2 separate regions of the Homo sapiens genome follow, and region 2 is reported to be linked to region 1. The links are microRNA targets in miRTarBase. Many come from high-throughput screens and were not tested one by one. Region 1 holds a microRNA gene; the other region holds the end of a gene's coding sequence.
What was found. Region 1 holds the annotated microRNA hsa-miR-6506-3p (UCGUAUCAGAGAUUCCAGACAC, at 3,583-3,604, opposite strand). A microRNA usually pairs through its seed, bases 2 to 8, with sites in the 3' UTR of a target mRNA and lowers its output. Matches are read on the target gene's strand: a 7mer-m8 pairs with bases 2 to 8, a 7mer-A1 pairs with bases 2 to 7 and ends in A, and an 8mer does both.

Region 2: miRTarBase lists PCMTD2 as a target of hsa-miR-6506-3p. Seed matches in the 3' UTR shown: 7mer-m8 at 2,287-2,293.

What each region holds. Positions count from the first base shown.
Region 1 is chr16:15,607,449-15,612,829 of GRCh38, forward strand. It overlaps MIR6506 (microRNA 6506), which reads right to left and starts at 3,647; the gene lies at 3,582-3,647. It overlaps MARF1 (meiosis regulator and mRNA stability factor 1), which reads right to left. Exons shown (of 27, transcript NM_014647.4): 17 at 5,109-5,329; 18 at 4,144-4,286; 19 at 3,527-3,660; 20 at 2,075-2,277; 21 at 843-1,070. RefSeq lists an enhancer at 3,024-3,318.
Region 2 is chr20:64,273,023-64,278,403 of GRCh38, forward strand. PCMTD2 (protein-L-isoaspartate (D-aspartate) O-methyltransferase domain containing 2) reads left to right here. Exons shown (of 6, transcript NM_018257.3): 6 at 199-3,204. The coding sequence ends at 578. It also overlaps the pseudogene IL9RP5. Among named protein-coding and RNA genes, the nearest start is that of PCMTD2, 20 kb to the left of the region's middle.

The sequences.
Region 1 (5,381 bases):
TGAGGAAGAAGAATCTCTTGAACCTGGGAGGCGGAGGTTGCAGTGAGCCAAGATCGCACCACTGCACTCTAGCCTGGGCCACAGAGCAAGACTCCAACTCCAAAAAAACCCCACAGTGGGAAGGAAAGGGAGAGTGAACCCGTTCTGGCTGTTTACGGAATTAAATGACACAGAAATGTGTGCAGCTAGTAATGGGCCTGTAACTGAGGGTGCCGTCCTTCATGCTTCCCTTTCCATTCCTTCCTCCTGGCAGTGACTTCTTCTGGTCCTGTGGGGGAGGAGGCCGAAAACTGGCAGCTGCTCTGCCTAGGACAGGAAGGGTCAAGTGCAGTCCAGGACAGCAAACAGCACGAGCTGCCCTCTCTACTACAGCTCTGCCAGTGACAAAGGCCACTCTGCACCCTCGCTTGCTCCTAAGCCTACTCCTAAGTGGGTGAGAATGTGGAGGGAGAGGACACTGTGTGATTACGGGCTCCCAAGAACGTCACAGGCAAAACTCACACTGGAAGGAGTCAAGCTCAGGCCAGCAGTGCTGAGGCAGCTGCACCTCATGACCGAACCCTGGGGTGAAGAGTGACCTCATCAGTTCACAAAGGCATTGCTTTGGCAAGGCCATTCAGAAACACACAAGAGGAAGACCAAAACTCTCAACTTCCAAACCAAGGCTTCTATTACCTAATAAGCACTAATGACACAAAACGAGTCATAATGCTGTGACAGTTAAGTAGTTCAAGGTGTAAATAAAGAAACGCTACAGCACACGCAAACGTCCTAATGAGAATTAGGTCACTGTGAGTTTTATCCCATGAGGGAAAAAAAAAAAAAAAAAAAAAAACATTTACCTTCACGACATGGCAGAGTTTCTGAGTTAAAGCCGAAATGGAACTGACATCATAGTCTTGGAGACGAAATGTATAACCAAAAGTTTTAGCATATTCTGTAAGGAGATCTGTCATCATAAGGCAGTTATCTTTTTGGGACCGAAGGAGTTTAACAAACTGGGCAGCTAGAGCTTTGAACCGCTCCACCTCTGTCAGAGTAAGGATCTTTTCTTCTCCACATTCCAATACCTTTGAAAACACACGGGGGGAGGAAAGGGAAAATAAACAAATCACGGGTGTTTACAGAATAGCAAAAAAAGTATGCAGCTAGTAATGAAAAAACAAGTCAGCGTTACTGAATGGGTATAAAGTTTCAGTTGTGTAAGATGAAAAAGTTCAGAAGATCGGTTGCATAACAATGTGAATGTGCTGACCACTACTGGACAGGAGATATAAAGATAGTTACGAAGGTAAGTTCTATGTTATGTGTATTGTGCCACAATAAAACAATTTTTAAAAAGCACTTCAGTAGTAAAAAAAGAAAATAAAATCAACAACAGAAATTTGGTTTAACTTAGCAACAGCGAACAGCTTAGCACTGATGTTACCTCATGTACTCAGACCTACCTTCAACACGAAGGATTTTAAAAGTATAAAAGTAATGAACAAATATTCAGTGTAAGAAATCAGCAGGTGTGGTGGCTCACGCCTGTAATCCCAGCACTCTGGGAGGCTGAGACAGGCGGATCAACTGAGGTCAGGAGCTCAAGACCAGCCTGGCCAACGTGGTGAAACACCATCTCTACTAAAAATAGAAAAATTAGCTGGGCATGGTGGCGGGCACCTGTAATCCCCAGCTACTCGGGAGGTTGAGGCAAGTGAACTGCTTGAACCCGCAGGCGGAGGTTGCAGTGAGCCAAGATTGCGCCATTGCACTCCAGCCTGGGCGACAAGAAAGAAACTCCGTCTCAAAAAACAAAAACAAACAAACAAAAAAAAGAAAACCTACTGAATCTTTTTTTCAATAATTACCCCCAAAACAAGTTTGAATAATCCTTTATTGAAGGAAAAAGCCATATTTATCTAAAAATACTAATGAGTCAGGAATATGGCTTCTCTGACTGGAATAGCTTAGATTTTCATCCTCTTTCGTAACTCCCTACTTCCCAGAAAAACAGGTCTGGAACGTGAAAAAGTATTTCCTATACGTTGTTCAGAAAAATACTTTATAAAATTAGAATTTCTTCACTCACTTGTAAAGTATCAGGTATGGCTTCAAAAAGTTCAAGTAGTTTGGTAAACCCATAGTACGCAAGTTTGCACTGCCGGCCAAAGTGGTGATGGTAAGAAGGGATAAATTTATTAAAGGGCATCCGGAAATGGGGTTGGTGACGCAGCAAATCAACGACATCCTTGGAGAACTGTTTTGTCCTTTCTATTTCATCCTGAGTGCGTTCTTTTAAAAAAACCAAAAAACATAAAATCACAGTTTTTTTCTACCCATTTGTGTTCAACATCCACACTAGAGTAAATCCTTTTGGGAATTTATAAACGATATCATCCTTGCCTTCCAAACACACACAACCTAAAACAAACACATATACTCTTCCCTCTTTGCAAGTGGTTCTCAAACATGTTCCAGGGCAGAACACCAGGAAGTTATGATATTATTATATTATGAAATTCATATATATTCATCTTATAAGCTAGAAACAATGTCATCTTATAAGCTAGAAACAATTTTCTAGCCCCTGCCCCATATCTATTAACATGACACACACCCAGGTCCCTGTACTTAAGCAAGTACTCTAGAAATTATTCCCATGAAATCACGCTTCTGAATATCCCCACTTTTTTTGTTTATTCATCTGATCTTCAGTTAAAACTTGCTAGCAGAAGAGAGAATCAGGCTTCAAAAGTTGAACAAAAATAAACAGGAGGGAAAGCTTAAGCTGAGATTGTTTCTATTAATTTTTAAGTGAGAATGGGCCCTGGAATTCTATGATTTCATGGACATCAATGTTCTGCAGGAGCACCGTTTAAGAACCAGATAATAGAAGGAGGATACGACCATACAGTCACCCCTTGGTGTTCTCAAGGGATCGGGTCCAGGACCCTGCCTGGATACCAAAATCCGCACCTACTCAAGTCTTGCGGTCTGCCCCGCGGAAACTGCAGACACGAAAAATTGGCCCCCAGTATCCATGAGTTTCGCATCCCTCAAATACTGTACTTTCTACCCGTAACTGGACCTGTGCAGTTCTGACTTCAACTATTAAAATTTGAAAGGCAAAAGAAAAAAAAACATTCGAGTTGTCTTCCCTTCTCAAGTGTGCACAGTAAATAAAGTAGCTCAGAGTTCAACAGAAGAGCAAAGCCAACAGGCACGGTGACAGATTCTCAACTGGATGACTAAGGCTCATGTAGCCACAGCCAGGCTGCAGAAGGCATTTGAGCAAAGTGCTGATGATGCCCCTTTTTCCCCTTAGAGTCAATTCTAAAAAGCCAGCCTGCTTTTGTTCTTGAGAACAGCTTCACCTACTTTGAAGAACACAGAATCCAAAGAGCAGCAGTTTTCACACTGTGCTTTCTGTGGAATCTTCAGGAAGCACGGACAGGGAGGGAAAACCACATCTTCCATGCCACACTATGTTAAAATAACAGGAGATAGACAATATCCTTCCAGCAAATGTTAAGTCACATACCTCTTTTGGGGATACAAATCACCATTTCATTATCTTGTTGGGACAAGCAGATGGTTGTGTCTGGAATCTCTGATACGATGTCAATCAACTCACAAACACCATATTCAGTGACATCCCAGTCCTTTGAGAAACACCTAGGTTTTAACAACGGAAGTGGATACGGAATGAGTAGTATCATCGGTAGAAGAACTACAAGTTTTCCGGCCGGGCGCTGGGGCTCACGCCTGTAATCCCAGCACTTTGGGAGGCCGAGGTGGACGGATCACGAGGTCAAGAGATCGCGACCATCCTGGCTAACATGGTGAAACCCCGTCTCTACTAAAAAATAGAAAAAATAAGCCGGGTGTGGTGGCGGGCGCCTGTAGTCCCAGCTACTCTGGAGGCTGAGGCAGGACAACGGCATAAACCCGGGAGGCGGAGCTTGCAGTGAGCCAAGATCGTGCCACTGGGCGACAGAGCGAGACTCCGTCTCAAAAAAAAAAAAAAAAAAACAAAAAACTACTACAAGTTTTCCAAAAGAATGCTTAATAGAAATACTAGATAACTATTTAGAGTTTGGCAGAAGATAAAATGTCCTAAAATATTTACTTTCATTTCTGTTCTTTTCATCAACTCACCAGTGATAAGCCTGTGAGAATTCTCTCACAATGACCTGTTTGCTGGCCTGGGATTTGAGAAGTTTTAGTAAATCCTGAGTAAAGCGCTTCACCTGGGCCCTGTGGGTAAGGGTCAGCAGACGTTTGGAGCCCATTCCAAGAATCTGCAAAGCAAATAGTTTATTTATACACATAAGACCTCAGCAGACAGCGACTTCCTTGCTGCTGGCTCACCCTCTCGTTACTAGCCTCAGAGCATGACTCCCTTTATGTAGAATGTGTGCAATTTGAAACACATGTCGATCAACAAAATGTAGTTGGTCAAAAGGAACAAATGTCCAAGGCCTTCTGAAACTCTTATCGTTTTTGGCCTGGCACACCTTCTCCCAAACAGTCGTTGAGTATAAAAATGAAAAGTGTAATCTTTTGAAAAGAAAAGTCGTGAGTACAGAAATGAAAACTGTATTGGTTGTCCAGACAAATTGGTCTACAAGTTTTTCAAGCCGTTTTTAGTGAGTGGGAAGCTGTTATAACACTGTGAGTTAACTGGTAAAAGTCTTCATAGGATCCAGTGCTACACTCTAGCCCAGTAACTTGTCTCCAACTAGTTAAATTTAGAAGAAAGGTTAAGCCCTTGACTCTCACATAGGCACCAACATACAAGTATGTGGCTATTCATGGGAGCTTCCTTGTAATCATGAACAGTTCTGGAGAAAGCTGTGCTGGGATGAAGAAGGTCTATAGAGCTTAGAGGGAAAATACTCCTCAGTCCTCCAAGGAGTTCCTCTAAAACTGGAAACTAGCAGCGTTCTGAAAAATTGAGAAGCCGCCTGTGTGTGTTATTCCTGCCCTCTGAAGAAAGTTTTTAGTGGATGTTCTGCCCAGAACTGACTTCTTAGGAATTAAACTGTTTCTTTGATGGAGGCAGCCAAAGCCATGGAGGAACATTCCTGCCTGTAAACAAGTAATCCCGTGACACGCCTTACCTGCAATACATGAGGCACTGCTTCTAATAACTCAATCAGCTTGGAGTATCCGTAGTCTGACACTCGGCACTGCTTTGCAAAATGATGGTGATAGGATGGGATGAAATGACTGATGGGTATGACACAAGATGGCTGGCTTTTCAGCAAGTCAATCACTTCTCTACTGAACTGGATCAGCTGGGGGTTACCTACAGGACTCTTCGAACGCAGAAGCCAAGGGTCTAGAAGAAAAAGAACGTGTATAAGACAGAAAGCACAGATTTCACCAGCTGA
Region 2 (5,381 bases), not on the chromosome of region 1:
GGAAATATCTTTTGAAAAGTACCATATGATTGTAAATTAGAGCACTAATTGACATTTGCTTAGCATGCTCTCATATTCTTGTAACATATTCATAAATTTGCCAGTTAATTGAAATGATGCTACGGGTCTTAGGTGTGTAGGCGTTGTGGTGGTGTCACTCCGATGCATTTGACTGTGTCTCACTCTTCTGTGCTGCAGCACCAGTGGCAGTTCGCAGCCTCCAGGACTTGGCTCGCATCGCCATCCGGGGCACCATTAAAAAGATTATTCATCAGGAAACTGTGAGCAAAAACGGAAACGGACTAAAGAACACCCCCAGGTTTAAACGAAGGAGAGTTCGCCGCCGTCGAATGGAAACGATTGTCTTTTTGGACAAAGAAGTCTTTGCCAGTCGGATTTCCAACCCCTCAGATGACAACAGCTGTGAAGACTTGGAAGAGGAACGGAGGGAAGAAGAAGAGAAGACCCCGCCGGAAACAAAGCCAGACCCCCCAGTGAACTTCCTACGCCAGAAGGTCCTGAGCCTCCCTCTGCCAGATCCCCTGAAATACTACTTGCTTTATTACAGAGAAAAATAAGTCTCCTGTTTGAAAGGGGGAAATAGGAAGAGCAGATTGCTGAGTGTGAAGTTCGTGCTGCCTGTGTGCTGTTGAAGGGTCACCTGGAGGCAGACGTTGTGGGGAAGGGAACTGCTGGGCTCATCCACACCATGGTTTTCTTCTAGTTCCTGATTGACCTCTAAAATTCTATTCAGTTGTATGATTTGTTTACATAGTTCCACAAGACCTTCATTGCATAGAAGATTGTTTTCCCAAAGTGGAGAGAATCTTCATAGAGAAAAAGAGAAGGCTGTTTCTTTTTCGGCTCTGACGAAACACTGAAGTCTGCGTAAGAGAGACTGTTTGATGACCGTCCCTCATGCAACATGCACGGTACTCACTAAAAATGAAAACTGAAGTGGAAACTAACCTGTGTTGCTTATAAAGTGTGAAAGCACAAGCTTATAAATGTATAAAATCTTTTCTGGGTGTGACGCACCTGCGTCCAAGTTTGAATTTTTATGATATGTACCACTTAATTACTGGCACTGAGTATCACTGAATTTCTTAGTTTTCTAGTGGGGAAACATTATTGAGAAGCCCTCCCTTATTTTAAGTAAGTTGATTAAATCTTATGTGAGTTGCCAGTTGTAATTTTTCAAAGGAAAAATTTTGATGGGGTGGAGGAATGAATTGCCAGATAATCTTTCTGGAATTCCGAGAGAATTCCAAAGAGGGTTTTTTTTTTTTTTTTTAGGACATCTTTTGATACCTTTAAAAGAACCACTGTCAAGTAATCCTTAAAAGAATATCTTGGAAAAGGAAACAGATTTTTTCCTGTGTGTAAGCAATAAGTGAAGTTACATTTGCCCTAACCCTAGGGATGATTCTTTACCCAGTTTTAAAGCCCATCATGGTATTCTAAGGTGTTGACACCCTCCATCCTCAGAGCAGGTCGAAAATATTAAATAGACTGGGGACTCTATGATGGGCAGCCTGTGCTTTTTGACTTCAGTTTGCTATTTTTCTGTGATCACATTAGTACTGATTCATAGATTCTATCTTTTATAATTCTGGAGAAAAAGATTTGTTAGTTTTGTAATTTTTTTGTAAGACCAAATGTATGTATTTTAGTAGCTCCATTGCATGAGAAGAGTGTAACTCACACTGACTTGTGATATCAGCCTTCTCTGGGCCTTGTGTGTGGAGAGCTTTCTATCTTACCAAGTGGTAGGGCTAAAAGAACAACAGCCTTTTTGGTAGTCACATAGCAGAATGATCAGAGTTACATTGCTTATTCCAAAACATTGGTTCTTTTTAAAACATTTTTTTTTACCCAAAGAAAAGAATAATAGAAATTACTAACAATAAATATAAATTCAGAGTGTTGATATAGGATTCAGTATCCAGAGTTTATTTTTAATCTTAATCCTCAGCTTCTTGGGAGTTGCTGGGCTTCAGTGTCTCTGTGGTTTCACCAGCTTAGCTTGAGCTCTGGTTATTTTGGATCTTTTCTGCTTTTTTTAAGTAACTGAGTCATTTTTACCACACAGTCCAGTTTGCATGTATAGCTAGGAAACATGTATTGCTCTAGATTGGGCAGTTTAAGTCATTTTAAAGAAAGTTAGTTCATAGTTGTTGCCTTTTAACTCATAGTCAAGCTTCAGTCTTTCAAAGAGAAATGTGTGATTTTCATTTACTTGCTGATATTTTGTAGTTTGGAGATCCTTGTGGGCATTATTCTAACTGATACGTAGACACTTACTTGGAAATTTTTGGACATTATATTAAATGAGTGCTATCTGTGAAATTGGTTATATTAGGTGGCTTGACTAATGTTTTTTCTATAATTGTATATGGACTGCATTTTTAAAAAAACCGCATTTGCCTTTATGCTAGATTGTAAAAAATTATATTAGAATGCATAAGACATGTTTTTCCTTCATATGCTAGACTTTTCCTAGCATTTCGTATTTCTGTGTTGTCAGTGTGTGATTTTTAAACCGGAATTTGGTTTAAAAAAAATCTGGTGGTAATATATGTGAGAAATACTTTGGTGTTTACCTTATGAAAATAAAGGATTGTAAGTAAAGTTTCCTGCGCACCTTATACCAGAATTCAGTATAATACACTACTTTCTGTTTTCAAACAGATAAATCATAATATAGTCTGTATTATCTGTAAGATCTGTCTTGTAAACCACATTCTTGACAACTATTTGCTTTTGAGTAGTTTGTATTTTAATATGTGACTTTTGTCTTGAAAAGTAGTAAAGCCATAGACTTGTGCAAAACAAGTTTCAAGTTTATAGATATTAAGTTTGTAATGTGAGCATCAAATGTGTATGTAAAAATACTTTTTACCAGTCTGGAACTTGGGAAAATCCAGGGAATTTGAAACATAGATTTTAATGAGCTGGTAAACACAAATCATGTCAATAAAGGTAGTCAGGATATTTTATCCTTAGCATTGCTTCTGCATCCTGTGTAGGATTCCAATTCTTGAATATGTTCTTTTCAAAATCTTAAGAAAAGAACCTTTTTTCTTTATTAACATCATGTGTTTACTTTCAGCAAATATTTGTATTACTGCTTGATTCTGTGACAGTCACAATAGATGTAGAGAAGGCATTATTTTTCATTAATAAATGTGAAATTGGAATGGACAAATGGAGAAGTGGCTGGCTCCAAGTACATAAGAGAATAGGGCCTTGAAGATTGCGGTTAACGTTTTTGGCATAATTTTCCCACATTCAACTTTCTAAGGGGCAGAAAATATTTTTTTTTCATTCTCAGTTATCTGTTCAGAGCACAGATGTTATTTAGATCTTGAAATTCTGGGACCAGTCTCCCAAAGAGCTTATGTTTTCTCTTTTATTGTATGTGCTTGTTGGGATATTTTTTACATTCTGCCTTCCAATTTTTTATTTTGGCAGTTATATATTTTAAGATAATTTCATGCTCTCTTTACTGATCTCTGAATTTTCCTTCCTGCTGTATTCGTCAGGGTTCTGTAGAGGGACAGGACTAATAGGATAGATATATATATATGAAAGGGAGTTTATTAAGGAGTATTGACTCACAGGATCGCAAGGTGAAGTCCCACAGTAGGGCATCTGCAACCTGAGAAGCAAGGAAGCCAGTCCGAGTCCCAAAACCTCAAAAGTAGGGAAGCTGACAGTGCAGCCTTCAGTTTGTGACTGAAGGCCCAAGAACCCCTTTCAAACCACTGGTGTCAATCCAAGAGTGCAAAAGCTGAAGAACTGGGAGTCCTGTGTTCGAGGGCCGGAAGCAAAGCATGGGAGAAAGATAGAGGCCGGAAGACTCAGCCAGTCCAGTCCTTCCGTGTTCCTCTGCCTGCTTTTATCCTAGTCGAGCTGGCAGCTGAATAGATGGTGCCCACCCAGACTGAGGGTGGGTGTGCCTCTCCCAGTCCACTGACTCAAATGTTAATCTCCTTTGGCAACAGCCACACAGACACACCCAGGAATGATACTTTGCATCCTTCAAGCCAATCAAGTTGACACAGTACTAATCATCACACCTGCATATACTGTTATTTTCTGTGGTTGCAGTACTATAGACTTTTCTGAGGATCCTAATTAGAATTTTTAAAAATTTTACTTCATCGGAGGTGGGAACGTGGATTCTGGCCCTTCCTTGAACAAAGAAGGAAACGGCCAGAAAGAGGAAGGGATGTGGGGACTTACTCCTCTAGAGGTGATTTATCAGTTTGATCATGTTGATCTTTCATTTCTTGCTGTATCTCTTTTTTTTTTTCTTTTTTAACTGTTGTTGGAGACTCACGTTTGCCTGTCTGTAATTACAAACCAGGCTGGAGTAGGGACAGTCATTGGCCAACCTCATAGTGGGATGAGGAGAGCTGGTCTTCAAGCCAGGGGCCTGGACATATGAAGGGTAATGGTCTCTGGGAATCAGTGAGCCTCCTTGATCCGTCTGCAGAAACCCCTTCCTTCTGGTTCCCTGCTGCTGCTGGGCATCAGGATGCTCTCCCACCATTCGAGCTCCTTGCAAACCTCATCCTAACCCTAACCCTGCTGTGCCCCAGCTCTCTGTCAGATGCCCGTCACCAGGGGCTCCACTTGCAACCTGACTCTGAACAACTGTGGACCTTGTGCTTATGTCTTTCCCTTCTCTTTCTCTTGGAGACAGAGATGCTCTGAACAACTGTGGACCTTGTGCTTATGTCTTTTCCCTTCTCTTTCTCTTGGAGACAGAGATGTAACCCATTGCTCCACTATGTTGGAACCAGAATGTCCAAATTAGCACTTGAGGTTCTGCATGAAAGAGGAAATAGCAGAAAGCGGGGATAGAGTCATAGACCACACGGGCAGGACGTCCCTTTGACCTAGGAGGGCCCTGGGCAGCTGGGCACTGGGTGGTTAGAGCAGGGGTGGAGTCATAGACCACACGGGCAGGACGTCCCTTTGACCTAGGAGGGCCCTGGGCAGCTGGGCACTGGGTGGTTAGAGCAGGGGTGGAGTCAGACCACACGGGCAGGACGTCCCTTTGATCTAGGAGGGCTCTGGGCAGCTGGGCACTGGGTGGTTAGAGCAGGGGTGGAGTCATAGACCACACGGGCAGGGCATCCCTTTGATCTAGGAGGGCCCTGGGCAGCTGGGCACTGGGTGGTTAGGTGGTTGTTCTGATGGTCAAGAGGGAGAACAGCATGAGCCCTGCCCCAGGCCTGTTGTTCTGTGTCAGAGATCAGGGCTGTCTTAATGCCCCATATCCCCCACCTGGCCAGCTCCCCCAGACTCAGAGGGCAGCAGCAGTAACTACTGTGCCTTGATCCGCTAAGGTGGTGGGGGCCACCCCTCTG